Regions from separate parts of the Homo sapiens genome. Here region 2 is linked to region 1. Evidence: fine-mapped expression QTL. A gene starts in region 1. The other region holds a variant in brackets. All regions are shown on one strand. Distances are between the middles of the regions.

Region 1 (8,291 bases):
CGGAGATCGCGCCACTGCACTCCATCCAGCCTGGGCGACAGAGCGAGACTCTGTCTCAAAAAAAAAAAAAAAAAAAAAATTAGCCAGGTGTGGTGGTGGCCACCCGTAGCCCCAGCTACTAGGGACGCTGAAGCAGGAGAATGGCATGAACCCAGCAGGCAGAGCTTGCCGAGATCTGCTGCCAAGTGGTGTGAGCCGAGATCACGCCACTGCACTCCAGCCTGAGTGACAGAGCAAGACTCTGTCTCAAAAAAAAAAAAAAAAAGATGAGAACTTTAGATATTGCATAGCCACAAAGAAGGAGGTATCAGATTAAAATATGCAAGTGTCTCGGGGTCACAGATAGCGCTGCCTGGATATTTAAGGTACTGTGGCTGATAAGCCAGAATACAGCATAGGGGAGGCATTAGGAGAGAGGGTTGTTTTTTTTGGTTTTTTTTTTTTTGAGACGGAGTCTCGCTCTGTTGCCCAGGGTGGAGTGCAGTGGCGCGATCTCGGCTCGCTGCAAGCACCACCTCCTGGGTTCACGCCATTCTCCTGCCTCAGCCTTCCGAGTAGCTGGAACTACAGGCGCCAGCCACCATGCCCCCCTGATTTTTTTATTTTTATTTTTAGTAGAGACCGGGTTTCACCATGTTAGCCAGGATGGTCTCAATCTCCTGACCTCGTGATCCACCCGCCTCGGCCTCCCAAAGTGCTGGGATTACAGGCGTGAGCCACCATGCCCAGCCCAGAGAGGGTTTTTTTTGTTTGTTTATTTGTTTTTGGAGACGGAGTCTCGCTCTGTCGCCCAGGCTGGAGTGCAGTGGCGCGATCTCGGCTCACTGCAAGCTCCACCTCCCGGGTTCATGGCATTCTCCTGCCTCAGCCTCCCAAGTAGCTGGAACTACAGGCACATACCATCACGCCCGGCTAATTTTTTGTATTGTTAGCCAGGATGGTCTCGATCTCCTGACCTCGTGATCCACCCTCCTTGGCCTCCCAAAGTGCTGGAATTACAGGTGTGAGCCACCACGCCCGGCCCAGAGAGGGTTTTTTACCTTTCTGAATGCTGGTCTCACCTAATGTACCTTAAATATCCTGGCTAATGAACTCCAGAGTTCTCTGGCTTCTGTCTCTGGTGCCAAACCCCCAGGCAAGGGAAGTCCCATGAGGAAATTTATCCCGCCTCAAATCTGAAATCCTCCTCACAATCGTCAGGAGTTGCTGAGGATTCTGGGCTTAGTCCCTGGCCAGGATTATCCCTTTGCCCATCAAACCCTGGCTGAAATGACAGTCCCAACACTATGACTACCTCAGGGCCAGCTGCAAGTTAAAGACCCACTGATGCCTGTGCAGCAAGGGTCTCTGAACCCAAGTCTGAGCCAGAAGGTACGGCAAAGAAAGGGCCTCTTCTTGAGCTAAAGGGATAATCCCCAAAGGTACAAGGCAAAAGCCTCAAATGCCCCCAGTTTCTGAGAAACGCCCAGACGCCCCCTCCTCAGGCTCAAGCCAGCTGCCAAGTACTGGAGAAGACAATCCTGAGGGCTCTCCTGGTCTCCTGGAAGCAGGGATATGGAGGCCTCTGTGTCAACAGAATGTCTCTATCTTTAAACTGTTTTCCTGGGGTTGTGGGTGACCCCACTCCAGGAACTGCAGAAACTCTTGGCCAGGCACTCTGCCTCTAGGGTGAAATCCTCAGGGAATAAGTGTGCCCATAACAGGAAGGGTGCGAGGATAGAAGGGGTGAATTGAGGAACATTCTGAATCAAACTGAAGACCCTTGCCCTCTGCTTGGACACTGAGAGCCAAGATGAAGGTAGGGGGGGTTGACCCAGTGGAACAAATGCCAGGTCCCAAGTCCCCCCCTACTCTACCGTGTGGCTCCCAGACGTCCCTCCTACCCTGAGGCTTCATACCCTACTCCCCCACTTAGCTTTGGGGGCCCTTTTATCCCCCCCTCCAACCCAAACCCTCTCCCCACCAGGCTGGGCCCCTCTCACCTAGGATGACAGCTTCCTCCTCGTTCTCATCTGCTTCTGCCCAGGCCACCCGCTGGGCTCGACGCTGGGCCTGTAGGCGGCTGCCCAGGTCCCTCCGGCGCCGAGGCCTGCCTCCAGCTCTCGGCTCCTCAGGCTCCAGGGGCCCAGGCTGGGCCACCCGGCCTGCTCCTGCCAGCTCCTCATTGTGCAGTGGCTCTTGGCCGGCTGTAGGGAAGACAGAAATGACAATGCTGCCTATAAGCCCAGCCCGGCCCATGGCAGGAGGAGCGGCAGCCCGGAAGCCTCACCTCCTCTGCTTAGCGGCCTGCTGCCCACAGCACAAGGCCCCGACTTCTCAGTCTGACTGGCAAGGCCTTTTCCACCAGGCCCACAGCTTGGTCCCAGGCGGGGGCTCAGCCCTTCCCTCGGGCCTGTGTGAATACTCCTCTCCCCTCCCGGCTCCACCTTTCCAGCTGGCCTGTCAGGAGGCCCCTATCCTGATGTCCCCAGCTCTCATCGAGTACCCCCTGCAGGAATCCACTGATTTCTCGCCTAACACCACCTGTGGTTTTATCTGGCTCCCCAGCCAGAGAGTACACTTCCCGGCGGTGGCCGAGCCTCCCCCGGGAAGACCTGCTGGATCTCCGCCTTCCCTCAGCGTGTCCCTTCCGCTCCTGGGAGCGCGCAGGTGCTCAGAGGTAGCTTGTGGGCCCAGGGAGCAGGAAAACACATATACAAACCCGCCCGCTGACCAGAAATGGGGGGAAAGAGGGAGGATGGGTGTATCTGTTCTGTGCCCTGGCCAATGACATGGCCTTCTGATCGGGGAGCGGATTGGGGAGGGAGAGTGGGCCCTCTCCTTGGCGGGAAGGGAGAGAGCTTCAGGAATTTCCTGGAGCCGCCTCGCGCTTCTCCAGCTCGTGGGGGACAGGCAGAAAATATTCAGATGCCCCCTTCCTGGCACCTGCTCTGGAGCCAGGCTGGGAGGAATGGAAAACCCCTGCGGCCTCCCTAACAGGTGCAGAGGGAAAGGGCCCCGACGGTGACGGATGGGAGTGTGCGCCGGCCAGGGCCTCAGGCCTTTGGAGGTATGGAGTTCCCGGGGGTGAAGAGAGGGATGAGGCCAGACTCTGGCTTGGAGTCGAGAGAAAGGGGTAGCGGCGCGGCCACCGATTCCAGGTAGGGCACTGCGGAAGCCCCACCCGGCACACGACTAGCGCACGGACGCGCATGCGTCCCGCCCGCCCAGGTGCGCACGCGCAGGAGCCGCGGCGCGACGGTCCACAAAGGCTCAGAAGGCCAGAAAACCCGGTACCACCAACCCTGGTGCAGCGGCATCTCCTACCTGATGCCGCCCGGCCCCGGCTGCGAGTCAGGAAGAGGATAAAGCCGACTAGCAGAGCCGCCGCTACCAAGTACCACACAGGCGCCACCATGACGAGGGCCTCAGTGCAGAACCACTGCGTCCACCCTGAGGCCGGGATCTCATAGGCCCCGCCCCTATTTCCCAATCTAGACTCCGCCCACTACTCGGAGCCCCGCCCAGCGGCACATCACAGAGAGGCTTTAATGTCAGACATTAAAATGAGTTTGGGGGGTGTAAAGAAACCCACAATGTTAAGAGGAAATTATAGCAGACGGTATGTCCAGTAGAAAACATCTATGTATGTTTTTTTTTTTTGAGACGGAGTCTCTGTCGCACAGGCTGGAGTGCGGTGGTGCGATCTCGGCTCACTGCAACCTCCACCTCCCAGGTTCAAGCGATTCTCCTGCCTCAGACTCCCGAGTAGCTGGGATTACAGGCGCCCGCCACCACGCCCGGCTAATTTTTGTATTTTTAGTAGAGATGGGGGTTTCACCGTGTTGGCCAGGCTGGTCTCGAACTCCTGACCTTGTGATCCACCCACCTTGGCCTCCCAAAGTGCTGGGATTACAGGCGTGAGCCACCGCGCCCGGACTATATATGTTTTAAAAATCACTAAACAATCCCACATAGTGTTTATGGAAACAACCGTGGAAAAAGTACGAAAAGAGGCTTGGGACTGATGCACACCAACTTCAGGATAGCGATTACCTCTAGGAGGAGGGAAGCGGGTTGGGGTTTTGCTGTATCTGTGACACTGAATTTCTTTCTTTCTTTCTTTCTTTTGAGGGGAAGGGGAGGGGAGGGGAGGGCAGTACTGGAATTTATTAAGCTTTTTGTATACATGATAACAGAAGTAAAGATTTATTTCAGGAGCCAGGCACAGAGGCTCGTCTGTTAACCCAATACTTTGGGAAGTCTAGGTAGAGGTGAGCCTAGGAGTTCAAGACCAGCCTGGGCAACATGATGAAACCCTGTCTCTACAAAATACAAAAATTAGCCAGGTGTGGTGGCATGCACCTGTGATTCCAGGTACTTGGGAAGATGAGGTGGGAAGATCACCTGAGCCCAGGGAGGTCGAGGCTGCAGTGAGCCATGATCATGCCAGTGCACTCCAGCCTGGGTGATAGAGTGAGACCCTGTCTCAGAAAATAAAAATAAATAAAAATAAATTCAGGACCAATGAACAATGGTGAGAAAGGGATTTGAAAAAATACGGGCCAGATGAGGTGGCTCTCCCCTGTAATCCTAGCACTTTGGGAGGCCGAGGTGGGCGGATCACTTCAGGTCAAGTGTTCAAAACCAGCCTAGCTGACGTGATGAAATCCTGTCTCTACTAAAAATACAAACAATGAGTGGGGCGTGGTGGCACATGCCTGTAATCCCAGCTACTCGGGAGGCTGAGGCAGGAGAATCACTTGAACCCAGGGGGCGGACGTTGCAGTGAGCCAAGATTGCACCACTGCACACCAGCCTGAGCGACAGAGCAAGACTCTGTCTCAAAAAAAAAAAAAAAAGAAAGAAAGAAAGAAAAAGAAAAAGAAAAAATATGGGCTGGGCGAGGTGGCTCACACCTGTAATCCCAGCACTTTGGGAGGCTGAGGTGGGTGGATCACCTGAACTCAGGAGTTTGAGACCAGCCTGACAAACACAGTGAAACCCTGTCTCTACTAAAAATACAAAATTAGCTTGGCGTGGTGGTGGGTGCCTGTAATCCCAGCTACTTGGGAGGCTGAGGCAGGAGAATCTCTCGAAGCCGGGAGGCAGAGGTTGCAGTGAGCCGAGATCACACTATTGCACTCCAGCCTGGGCAACAGAGTGAGACTCAGTCTCAAAAAAAAAAAAAAAAAAAAAAAAGCTGGGCACCGTGGCTCACGCCTACAATCCCAACCAACACTTTGGGAGGTCGAGGTGGGTGGATCACCTGAGGTCGGGAATTTGAGACCAGCCTGACCAACATGGAGAAACCCCATCTCTACTAAAAATACAAAATTAGCCGGGTGTGGTGGCTCATGCCCATAATCCCAGCACTTCGGGAGGCTGAGGCAGGCGGATCACGAGGTCAGGAGATCAAAACCATCCTGGCTAACACGGTGAAACCCCGTCTCTACTAAAAATACAAAAAAATTAGCCAGGCGTGGTGGTGGGCGCCTGTAGTCCCAGCTACTTGGGAGGCTGAGGCAGGAGAATGGTGGGGACCCGGGAGGCGGAGCTTGCAGTGAGCTGAGATCGCGCCACTGCACTCCAGCCTGGGCGACAGAGTGAGACTGTCTCAAAAAAAAAAAAAAAAGAAGAAGAAAGATACAAAAATTAACCAGGCATGGTGGTGCATGCCTGGAGTCCCAGCTACTCAGGAGGCTGAGGTGGGAGAACTGCTCGAACCCAATATGCAGAGGTTGCAGTGAGCCGGGACCACACCACTGTACTTCAGCCTGGGCAACAGAGCAAGACTCCATCTCAAAAAAAATAAATAAATAAAAGAATGAAAAAGAAAGTTATCTATGGACTTGTAATTATAGATGTCAGTTGTGATCTTTTTGTTTGTTGGTTTTTTGAGACAGGGTCTCACTCACATCACCCAGGCTAGAGTACAGTGGCACTCTTGGCTCACTGCAGCCTCGACTTCCCAGGCTCAGGTGATCCTCCCACCTCAGCCTCCTAAACAGCTGTGACTACAGGTGTGTGCCCCCAAGCCCAACTAATTTTTTGTATTTTTTGTAGAGACTGGGTTTCACCATGTTGTCTAGGCTTGTCTTGAACTCCTGGGATCAAGTGATCCACTGTGCCCAAGCTAGTTATCTTACATTACAGAACACCTACTATGTACCAGGAGCTGGGATTTAAGAATGAGAGGTGAGGCTGGGCACCGTGGCTCAAGCCTGTAATCTCAGCACTTTGGGAGGCTGAGGTGGAGGGATCTCCTGAGGTCAGGAGTTTGAGACCAGCCTGGTCAATATGGTGAAACCCCACCTCTACTAAAAGTACAAAAATTCACTGGGTGTGGTGGTGCATGTCTGTAATCCCAGCTACTCAGGAGGCTGAGGCAGGAGAATCCCTTGAACCCGGGAGTCGGAGGTTGAAGTGAGCCGAGATCGTGCCACTGCACTCAAGCCTGGGCGACAAGAGCAAGACTCCATCTCAAAACAACAACAACAACAACAACAAAACACAGTGGCTGATGCCTGTAATCCCAGCACTTAGGGAGGCCGAGGTGGGCATATCACGACGTCAGGAGTTCGAGACCAGCCTGGCCAACATGGTGAAACCCCGTCTCTACTAAAAATGCAGAAATTAGCTGGGCGTCGTGGGGGGTGCTTGTAGTCCCAGCTACTCAGGAGGCTGAGGCAGGAGAATCGCTTCAACCCAGGAGACAGAGGTTGCAGTGAGCCAAGATCATGCCATTGCACTCCAGGCCAGGTGACTAGAGCAAGACTCCGTCTCAAAAAAAAAAAAAAAAAAGAAAAAGAGAGGTGAGCAAAAACAGATATGGTTTTTACCATTAGGATTTTTAGAAGAGAAAACAGAATCACACAAATGAATATCTATTTGCAGTGCAGAGGTCAGTGCTATGCAAGCAGATGAAAGGGAGCTCAGGGAAGGTTTTCCTGAGCTGGGGCTTGAGCTGGCTAAGATCCAAGAAAGGCATCCATGTAAGGTGGGCTGTTTTTCTTCTTTTCAGGCTCCTCGGGGTAACTGATGTCCCCCAAGCCCTCCTCTGCCCCCAAATCCCCATGGCCACTCCTCTAGGGACTCTGCATAATGGTTAGTGTTTCTACTTCAATAAAAGAAAACAGGTCACCACCCAAAGCAGTGGTTCCCACACATTTTTTTTCTTTTTCAGACGCAGTTTTGCTCTTGTTGCCCAGGCTGGAGTCCGATGGCACGATCTCCGCTCACTGCAACCCCCACCTCCCGAATTCAGGCGATTCTCCTGAATCCTGAATTCTCTGAACTGGGATTACAGGCATGCACCACCATGCCCAGCTAATTTTGTACTTTTTGGTAGAGATGGGGTTTCTCCATGTTGGTCAGGCTGGTTTCAAACTCCTGACCTCGGGTGATCCACTCGCCTCAGCCTCCCAAAGTGCTGGGATTACAGGCGTGAGCCACCGGGCTTTCCCACACTTTGATGAGCATCAGAATGGCCTGAGGAGCTTGGTAAGAACTCAGACTCCCTCCCTTTCTTGTCCATGGGCAGAAGTGGCCATTCAAGAGGTACTGACACAGGGGTCCAGGCGGGGGGCAGAGGGCTGAGTCTCTGGAGGAGGGAGGTCAGATGACTTGCTGCAAAGAGAGTATCAGCAGAGGTTCAGCAGACCCACCTTTGAGAGGGCACTTCCTACTTTCTGTTGTGTTTGGAATGCAAAGATCTGGCTGAAACGGTGGCCACGGAGAAGGGGTGATAGATTTGAGAGGCTGGAGGGATGAGGAAGTGAGGAACTCTACATACTGAGCTCTCAAGCCTAGGAGTGAAAACGGGTGAGAAGTTTGGGCTTGTTTTAGGCTATGCCGAGTTTAAGTTCACAGTCGAGTGGATCATAGCTGGCGGGTAAGGCTGAAGGTGAGATCAGGATGAGGGTTTGGAAGCCCTTGCCTAGAAGGAGGCAGTTTTTTGAGACAGCATAGGAGAGCGCAAACCTCCAGGGTCACAGGGCTGCAGTCTTCTCCTTTCGGAGACCCCATTGCAGAGAAGAGCGAAAGCAGGGGCGGGGTGGGGGTGGGAGTGGTCTCTTCCGGTTCTTGAAGATAGCGTCCCTTAGGCAGGAGGGGTGGGTCACTCAGTCTCCAGGCTCGGGAGGCCCCCAGCAAATCGGACGCTGTGGGCTAGGCCGCCACCGCGAGCCCACTCGCCCGATACGCGCCTTGGGGTCCGGGTCGGCTTTCCCCGGGACCCCTGGCCGGAAACTGAGCCGTTCACTTCCGCCACCAGCCGGAAGTTTTCTGTCACTGGACGCCAAGGAGTTTTC
Region 2 (8,327 bases), 53 kb before region 1:
TCAGATCTTGGGTATCAAAGAGCTGTATCTTCTTCACACTCAGCTGGCAGAGCAGAGCAAAGCTGGTACTGCCCAGCAAGACAGGATGCTGCTCTGCAGGCAAAGAGCTCAGCTTACACAAATAATCAACAATGACTTGAGCCTGGAGATTATTTTGATTAACTCTGACTTTGTGCAAAATTAGTTCACCTTCTGAAACAGACAGGAGCTGAGAAGTCTCAGATGCATTATAGCTGTGAACACGGTATTCTGGTCTTAGCTGTAGGAAAACTCGCATGTTTTCAAAGGAATCAAACACTTCTACGTCCTCTTCATCAACTCCTGTGGCCCTGGGTGAGCCCAGCTGCAATGTACTGGCCTTAGAGGAAGAAGTCTTGCTGAATTCCAAACCTGGGTGGGCACTGCTGGTTGTCAGGATTCTCCGAGAAGAGAAGGTGCTACATATGTTCTTAACTTTTTTGGCAGAATGGCAGAGGCTAATGTGTTCTGGAGGGTCCTGTCCCCCATGCTGTGTGCTGCTCACATTCCAGTATGACACACTTCGGACTGCACCAAAGGCAGAAGGACTGCAAAATGCTCGGTATCTTACAAGTTTTAATGACTTGAGAGTAGCTGCCATTCTGGTGTCAGTATTGATCTCTTTGGCAGTCAGAATACAGTCCTCACAGATTTGACCAGGCAATTTCTTGTTTATATGGTGCTTGATTAGAGCTGGACGGGGAGGTGTTCCACAAAAACTGCCTGGAAATCTTCAGCATATCACAAGAGCCAGGGATCACAAATGACTGGGTCAGAATTGGTGCCAGATACTGAAAAAAGGGTAGATGAAGAATGAGTGGCTTCTACCTATAAAAGCATCCAAATTTACACATTATAAAAAACAGGTTGAAACTACACTGCTGTCTACTCAAATAAGTTCAATGCTAGTAAATGCCCAAACCACATGACAGCATATATCAAGGATAAATTCTGCGGTCTGTGTAAAGGCCTAGGAAAACCCCCAACCCAGGGTACCCGTGGGCAGTTCCTGGACTGCTGCTCACCAGACTTCCTTCACTGTACAAGGCAAGCAGTGACGGCTAAAGAAGAGACGGTGCTCCGCTAACATTTGATAGGAAGAAGGAAGGCAGATTTCTAGAAAGAAGGCTGGGAACAAAAGTGAGCAACTCCTTCCATCTCTTTGATATCAAGGCAAACAGGTCCTACCTGAAGAATGTTTATAAAAACTGCTATGCTAACAGCACTAAGTAAAAAGTGGGATCTGGTATAAAAGATAATTAGTTGGCTGGGTGTGGGTGGCTCATGCCTGTAATGCCAGCACTTTGGGAGGCCGAGGCAGGCAGATCACTTGAGGTCAGGAGTTCAAGACCAGCCTGGCCAACAAGGCGAAATCCCGTCTCTATTAAAAATACAAAAAATTACCCAGGTGTGGCAGCACACACCTGTAATCCCAGCTACTCAGGAGGCTGAGGCAGGAGAATCCCTTGAACCCAGGAGGCAGAGGTTGCGGTGAGCCAAGACCGTGCCACTGCACTCCAGCCTAGGCGAAAAAGTGAGACTCCATCTCAAAAAAAAAAAAAAAAGATTTAATTAGTTATACCTACGATAACCCTCCCTGTTCTTATAGCGCAAAACTGTTAATTCCAAAATTCTGTCATTCTAATGCTGTTCTTTTACTTTTTAGAAGATGCCTACTCTCCTCTTCAGGAAGCTTATAACAGAATTTGAGTCACTATTAGAGAGTAGTCACAGAGTAATGGTGTTATTAGAAAGTATACTAAAAAACTCACTCATTTTGGTGGGAGAAAGCAGAAGGTTGAGGGTCTGCTCACTGTCACTTCACGGGTGGGAAGCAAAGAGTACCCCAAAGCTGGGCTCAGGGTTCAGGGAACGCCAATTGACGCAACTGCCCCGCTGACATCTTCTGGAGAAGGCAGCTTAGCAATGTTTCCAGTGAGTCTTTATTCTGCCTGTGAGCAGTATAATGCCCATTTTTCTCCCATGGCAGAAACCATGAGAGACTATGAAATTGATTCTGCTGTGCTCTCGCTTTCCTTAATGCTTATTCTTTTTCTTTCCACTTAAGTGCCAAAGCCTGACAAGCAAGACCCAAGGAGACCTGAGTTGTCAACTGATGTACCAGACAGGGCTGTTGCTGCAGAAAACTCCATAAAAGTTCCAAGGGTGCCAGAATGACTTTCTGAAATGCCTGCCTAACTCTGCTGTCAGCCACTTTCTTCCAGAGCCCATAGCACATCATCATTTAGTTCATCAAAGAACAGCAGGGCAGGTCAGTGGCTCTGTTCCAGTAGCCCAGCTACACAGGCTTCTCTAGATGGCAGGAACATATGTATGAATTTCTGTGTGAATCAGAGCAGAATTCTCTCACATTAAATTTTTATACACTTGGTTCTTTACTGTGGCTTGTGGACCATTCTTTTTTTCTTTTTTGAGACAGTCTCACTCTGTCACCCAGGTTGGAGTATAGTGGCATGATAACTGCAGCTTTGACCTCCCACTTCAAGCAATCCTCCCACTTCAGCCTCAGCCTCTTGAAGTAGCAAAAACTACAGGTGCACACCACCAAACCCAGTTAGTGTGTGTTTGTGTGTGTGTTTGTGTGTGTGTGTGTGTGGAGATGGAGTCTCACAATGTTGCCAAGGCTGGTCTCAAACTCCTGGGCTCAAGTGATCCTCCTACCCTGGCCTCCTGAAGTGCTAGTATTACAGGCATCAGCCACCATGCCTGACCACCTGTGGACCATTCTGCCCACCAAATTTCAATCTGTGGTTCAGATCAAGGGTGAGCAGACTATGTCCTGGGGCCCAAATCTAGCTCTTCACATGTTTTTGTAAACAAGGTTTTTTCAGAACATAGCTAGGCCATTCATTATATATTGTCTATGTCTGCTTTCCTGCTACAAGAGCAGAACTGTGTAACTGTGGCAGATTGTATGGCCTGCAAAGCATATTTAGTGTTTGGTCTATTACATAAAAAGTCTGCTGATCTCTGCTACACACTATTTCTATAAATGCAGATAGCCAGCTTTTTAAAAATTAGAAAAACTTGGCCACGCCTATAATCCCAACACTTTGGGAAGCTGAGGCAGAAGGATTGCTTGAGGCCAGGAGTTTGAGACCAGCCTGAACAACACAGCAAGACTGTCTAAAAAATAAAATAAAATAAAAAATAAATTAAAAAAATAAAAAATTTTAATTAAAATTGGAAAAACTATAGAAAAATAGTACTAAAATAATGTTTTTCTTTAATATTTAGATGATAATTGAAGATTACAGTCCTCAAAATAGTCATTAGGAAATCCAATTAATACTACAGCACAGGAAAGGTGGGAACAAAAGAGACAGCAGGATGGCCAGGCGTGGTGGCTCATGCCTGTAATTCCAGCACTTTGAGAGGCCAAGGCAGGCAGATCACTTGAGGTCAGGAGTTCGAGACCAGCCTGGCCATCATGGTGAAACCCTATCTCTACTACAAATACAAAAATTAGCCAGGTGTGGTGGCATGAGCGTGTAATCCCAGCCACTCGGGGGGCTGGGGCACAAGAGTCGCTTGAACCCAGGAGGCGGAGGTTGCAGTGAGCCAAGATGGTGCCACTGCACTGCAGCCTGGGTGACAGAGACTCTGTCT[C/CA]AAAAAAAAAAAAAAAAAAAAAAGAACCAAAAAAACAGAGATAGCAGGTAACAGAACTCTCCAGCTGACAGAACAGGGCTTTTAAGAAGACCTATTTTTGGCTGGGCACAGTGACTCATGTCTGTAATCCCAGCACTTTGGGAGGCTGAGGCGGGTGGATCTATGAGGTCAGGCATTCGAGACCAGCCTGGCCAACATAGTGAAACTCTGTCTCTACTAAAAATACAAAAAATTAGCCAGGCGTGGTGGTGGGCGCCTGCAATTGCAGCTGGGGCACCTGCAATCCCAGCTACTCGGGAGGCTGAGGCGGGAGAATCACTTGAACCTGGGAGGCAGAGGTTGCAGTGAGCTGAGATAGCGCCACTGCACTGCAGCCCGGGCGATAGTGCAAGACTCTGTCTCAAAAAAAAAGAAGAGGAAGACCTACTTTCGAATTTGGAATTTAATTTAATCCACCACAATGTGCAACTAAAGCCATATACTGTTCAAATCTGTAGTCTTCATCTCATTTGAGGAAGGAGATCCTGGCCAGGCACAGTGGCTCACACCTATAATCCCAGCACTTCAGGAGGCCAAGGTGGGCGGACCACTTGAGGACAGGAGTTCAAGACCAGCCTAGCCAATATGGGGAAACGCCATCTCTACTAAAAATACAAAAATTAGCTGGGCGTGGTAGTGCGCCTGTAATCCCAGCTACTTGAGAGGCTGAGGCAGGAGAATTGCTTGAATCCAGGAGGCAGAGGTTGCAGTGAGCTGAGATCATACTACTGCATTGCAGCCTGGGCGAAAGAGCAAGACTGTCTCAAAAAAAAAAAAAAGTAGATCCTAAAAAAATAGATTTAAAGGTCCCATTTTTTAAATAAAATAGCTGTGCCATAGTAAAGCGAAAAACAGAAAATGTCTGTCTAGAAGGAGGCTGGTTTACAAGATAAATGTGTGGCAGGCATCAACACATGAAAAAGTACACACTAATATTGAGTGGAACAAATAGCACATAAACAAGAATTAACAAATATCTCTATAAATGATATTAATTTTAAAACATTAAATAATTAAAATTACTTCAATTAATTCTACCTAAGAGTACTTAATGAAATTACTATACGTGGTCTGGAAATAAAAGAACCATCTCCTAGAACATCAATGTTTGGTGCAGCTCCAGTGTTTTGAATTCATGTGACACTTTTTGATTTGTAAAAACACAGGCTAAGATCCAAGATGGAAATAACCAGAGCTATGCCTTAGGGCCTCCTCTGTGCCAAGGCTTAGAGCCTTGTAAAGCTGCTTTATCTGCATTAGTTCCCATCCTTATAACATCTCTGTAATGTAAGTTTATAATCCCCATATTACTGATGAGAAAGAGACCACAAGATTAAGAAACCTGCCAAAAGTTACACAGCCAAGGGATTGAGTGGAGCCTAATATTAAAGACTGTCTGACTCTTCAGCCCACATTATTGGTGTACTAGAGAGACAAGAATGGATGTCAGAAAACAGGTTCGGGGGGCAGTACGGGGTGGGATGGCTGAACAATCTATGGTCTTCTAGGATTTCCAGGTGCCAGGGAGCTGGAGGGTTAGAACTAGGTAAGCTTGAAAGTCCCTTCCACCTCTAACAGTCTACGATTCTATCACTACGGTTTATACTGCAAGTTGAGTATCCCTTGTCCAAAATGCTTGAGACCAGAAGTGTTTCAGATTTTAAACTTTTTCAGTTTTTGGACTATGTGCTTTATACTGACCAGTGAGCATTCCAAATTCAAAAATCCAAAATCTGAAATACTCCAATCATTTTTTTTTCCTTTGAGTATCATGTTGGTGCTCAAAAAGTTTCAGATTTTGGAGCATTTTGCATTTTGGAGTTTCAGGTTTGGAATGCTCAACCTGTACTTTAAAAAAGAACAAAGAGAAGACCTCAAAGGCTGAAATCTACATGAGGCAAAGAGTTCGCAGGATGCTCCAGGATCAAAGTAAGGAGAGCTACCACAATTGAAGACCTGAAAGTTGGCAGTAGAGATATGGGATCCAGAAACTAGGGTTCAATACAGAGAAGCAAAGGGAAATCCCAGGAAAAAGGTGAAGGAAGATCCCAGGACAAGAGCTGTGAACAGACATAAAGAGCAACCAGCTCATGCTGGACGACATAGACAGTACCCAGGAGAGGAGAATCATACTTCTACCGGATAATCCGGGCATGAACAAGAGATAAGGATACAAAAAGCCATGCTAATAAAAACAGTAACAAAAATTATTAATGCCAGGGAAGACAAAAAAGTTATACAAGATAGAATATGTTACCACAGGCAGGATGCAATGGCCCATTCCTGTAATCATAGTACTCTGGGAGGCCAAAGTGAGAAGATCACTTGAGGCCGGGAGTTTGAGACCAGCCTGGGCAATGTAGTGAGACCCCCACCTCTACAAAATATTTAGAAATTAGCCAAGCCTGGTGGCACACACCTGTGGTCCTAGCTACTCAGGAGGTAGAAGTGGGAAGGTTGCTTGAGCCCAAAAAGTTAAGGCTGCAGTGAGCTGTGATCCTGCTATGGCAGGGTGACAGAGAGAGACCCTATCTCAAAAAATAAATAAATAAATAAAAAGAGTAAAGAAAATATTAGTATATCATACTCCCTATTCAGTTGAGAATAATACTAACATAATTTTATTAATATAAATCTTGATATTAGCCTAACCAAAAATTATGAGCAAACTATATTGGGAGGATAAAGTGAGTAAGAGGAGGAGTAGGGGGAGGTTGATGATACAAGAGACCTAGAGCCTCAAAGTCCATAATAAAGAAGTACAATTGGACAGGTGTGGTGGCTCACAACTGTAATCCCAATATTTTGGGAGGCTGAGGCAGGAGGATCACTTGAACCCAGGAGGCAGAGGTTGCAGTGAACCAAGATCGTGCCACTGCACTCCAGCCTGGGCGACAGAGCAAGACACAGTCTCAAAAAAAAAAAAAAAAAAAAGAAAAGAAAAGAAAAGAAAAAATAAATATAGTGATGGCCAGGATCAGTGAGTGGCTCACACCTGTAATCCCAGCACTTTGGGAAGCTGAGGTGGGCGGATTGCTTTAGGCCAGGAGTTCTAGACCAGCCTGGGTAACATGGTGAAACCCTGTCTCTACTAAAAATACAAAAAGTAGGCTGGGCACAGCGGCTCAAGTCTGTAATCCCAGCACTTTGGAAGGCTGAGGCAGGAGGATCACCTGAGGTCAGGAGTTTGAGACCAGCCTGGCCAACGTGGCGAAACCACGTCTCTCCTAAAAATACAAAAAATTAGCCAGGCATGGTGGCAGGCACCTGTAATCTCAGCTACTCAGAAGGCCGAGGCAGGAGAATCACTTGAACCCGCGAGGCAGAGGTTGTGGTGAGGCGAGGTCGCACCACTGCACTCCAGTCTGGGCAACAGAGCGAAACTCCATCTCAAAAAAAAAAAGTGGGTCGGGAGAGGAAACTATTATTTAGTGTTACAAGCTCTACTGAACTATTTGACTGTTTAAACCATGTACATGTACAATTTTGACAAAAATTAAATTAAAAAATCCATGTATTATGAAGATATTATGGTATTGTTCAAGATAATGAATGGAGAAAGTAGCTTAATAGATAAGGAAAATGTTGAAAAGTTATTTTTAGTGCAAGCACTTTCTACTACCTAAGAACTTCTTTAAAGATGTTCAATAACAGAAATGATAACAAAATAAGGAATCTTAGAGGCATGAAGAGCCAACCTACAAATGGTAAACAGTGGCTACTTACTCTTTTCACTATGCAACATTTACAGTAACTCTATAGAAACTGTATCTACATACACAGGTCTGAAACAGAGGACTTCAGAAGTTGGTCTTGAGTACTGTGGAGAAGGAAAGAAAAACAAGGAAGATACAGAAGCAGCAGAGAAGAACAGTAGGGAGAAAAGACACTGCAAAGAAGCAGCAGTCAGGATGACCAGATAGCGAAAACATACCTGAGAAGGTTAGTTCCTCCTTACTCAAAGACTCTCAGAAAATCCATAGGAAAGCTGGAAAGAGAACACTATGAGATGCTCAGTCAATTAACTTCTGACTCTTTTTTTTTTTTTTTTTTTTGAGACAGAGTCTTGCTCTGTTGCCCAGGCTGGAGTGCAGTGGCGTGATCTCAGCTCACTGCAACCTCTGCATCCCGGGTTTAAGTAATTCTCCTGCCTCAGCCTCCCAAGTAGCTGAGACTAAAGGCTCACGCCAACATGCCCACCTAATTTTTTTGTATTTTTTGGTAGAGACGGGGTTTTGCCATGTTGGTCAGGCTGGTCTCAAACTCCTGGCCTCAAGTGATCCACCTGCCTTGGCCTCCCAAAGTACTGAGTACAGGCAGGAGCCACCACGCCCGGCCTGACTCTTTCAATAAAGGTCAAAGATACCTGATATGATTTCACAAAACTCCTTTCCTAGTTTAAGTGCCCCAAGTATACCTTTCTCCCCTTTAGGGGTCCTAACGAAACAGAGTAGAGCCTCAGACACTCCTGGACCCTGTCAGTTCCAAAAGGCAATGCCCAAACCTCCCTGAATGATGTGATTTCACAGGACTGAAGAATCTTACCTTTCTCCCTTCCACATACCGGTCTGAGCAGAGCCGAATAGCTTCATTTTAAACTAGAGTCTAGAAGTTAGAGGAGGGGGGCCAGGCAGAGGAAG

Evidence for each region. PIP is the estimated chance that this variant, and not a neighbour inherited with it, causes the effect.
Region 2: its variant is the best candidate, but not a certain one, in a credible set for the expression of DDRGK1 in whole blood (INTERVAL, PIP 0.67).

Annotation. Positions count from the first base shown.
Region 1 is chr20:3,201,231-3,209,521 of GRCh38, forward strand. DDRGK1 (DDRGK domain containing 1) reads right to left here and starts at 3,452. Exons shown (of 9, transcript NM_023935.3): 1 at 3,307-3,452; 2 at 1,983-2,186. The coding sequence starts at 3,397. It overlaps ITPA (inosine triphosphatase), which reads left to right and starts at 8,268. Exons shown (of 8, transcript NM_033453.4): 1 at 8,268-8,291. RefSeq lists enhancers at 1,542-2,140, 3,144-3,363, 7,863-8,291.
Region 2 is chr20:3,148,452-3,156,778 of GRCh38, forward strand. All of the region lies in intron 1 of UBOX5 (U-box domain containing 5), which reads right to left. It overlaps FASTKD5 (FAST kinase domains 5), which reads right to left. Exons shown (of 2, transcript NM_021826.5): 2 at 1-809. The coding sequence starts at 619. UBOX5-AS1 (UBOX5 antisense RNA 1) reads left to right here. Exons shown (of 7, transcript NR_038395.1): 7 at 2,087-2,416. Among named protein-coding and RNA genes, the nearest start is that of FASTKD5, 7.2 kb to the right of the region's middle. The variant C/CA (reference allele first, on the strand shown) is at 3,649.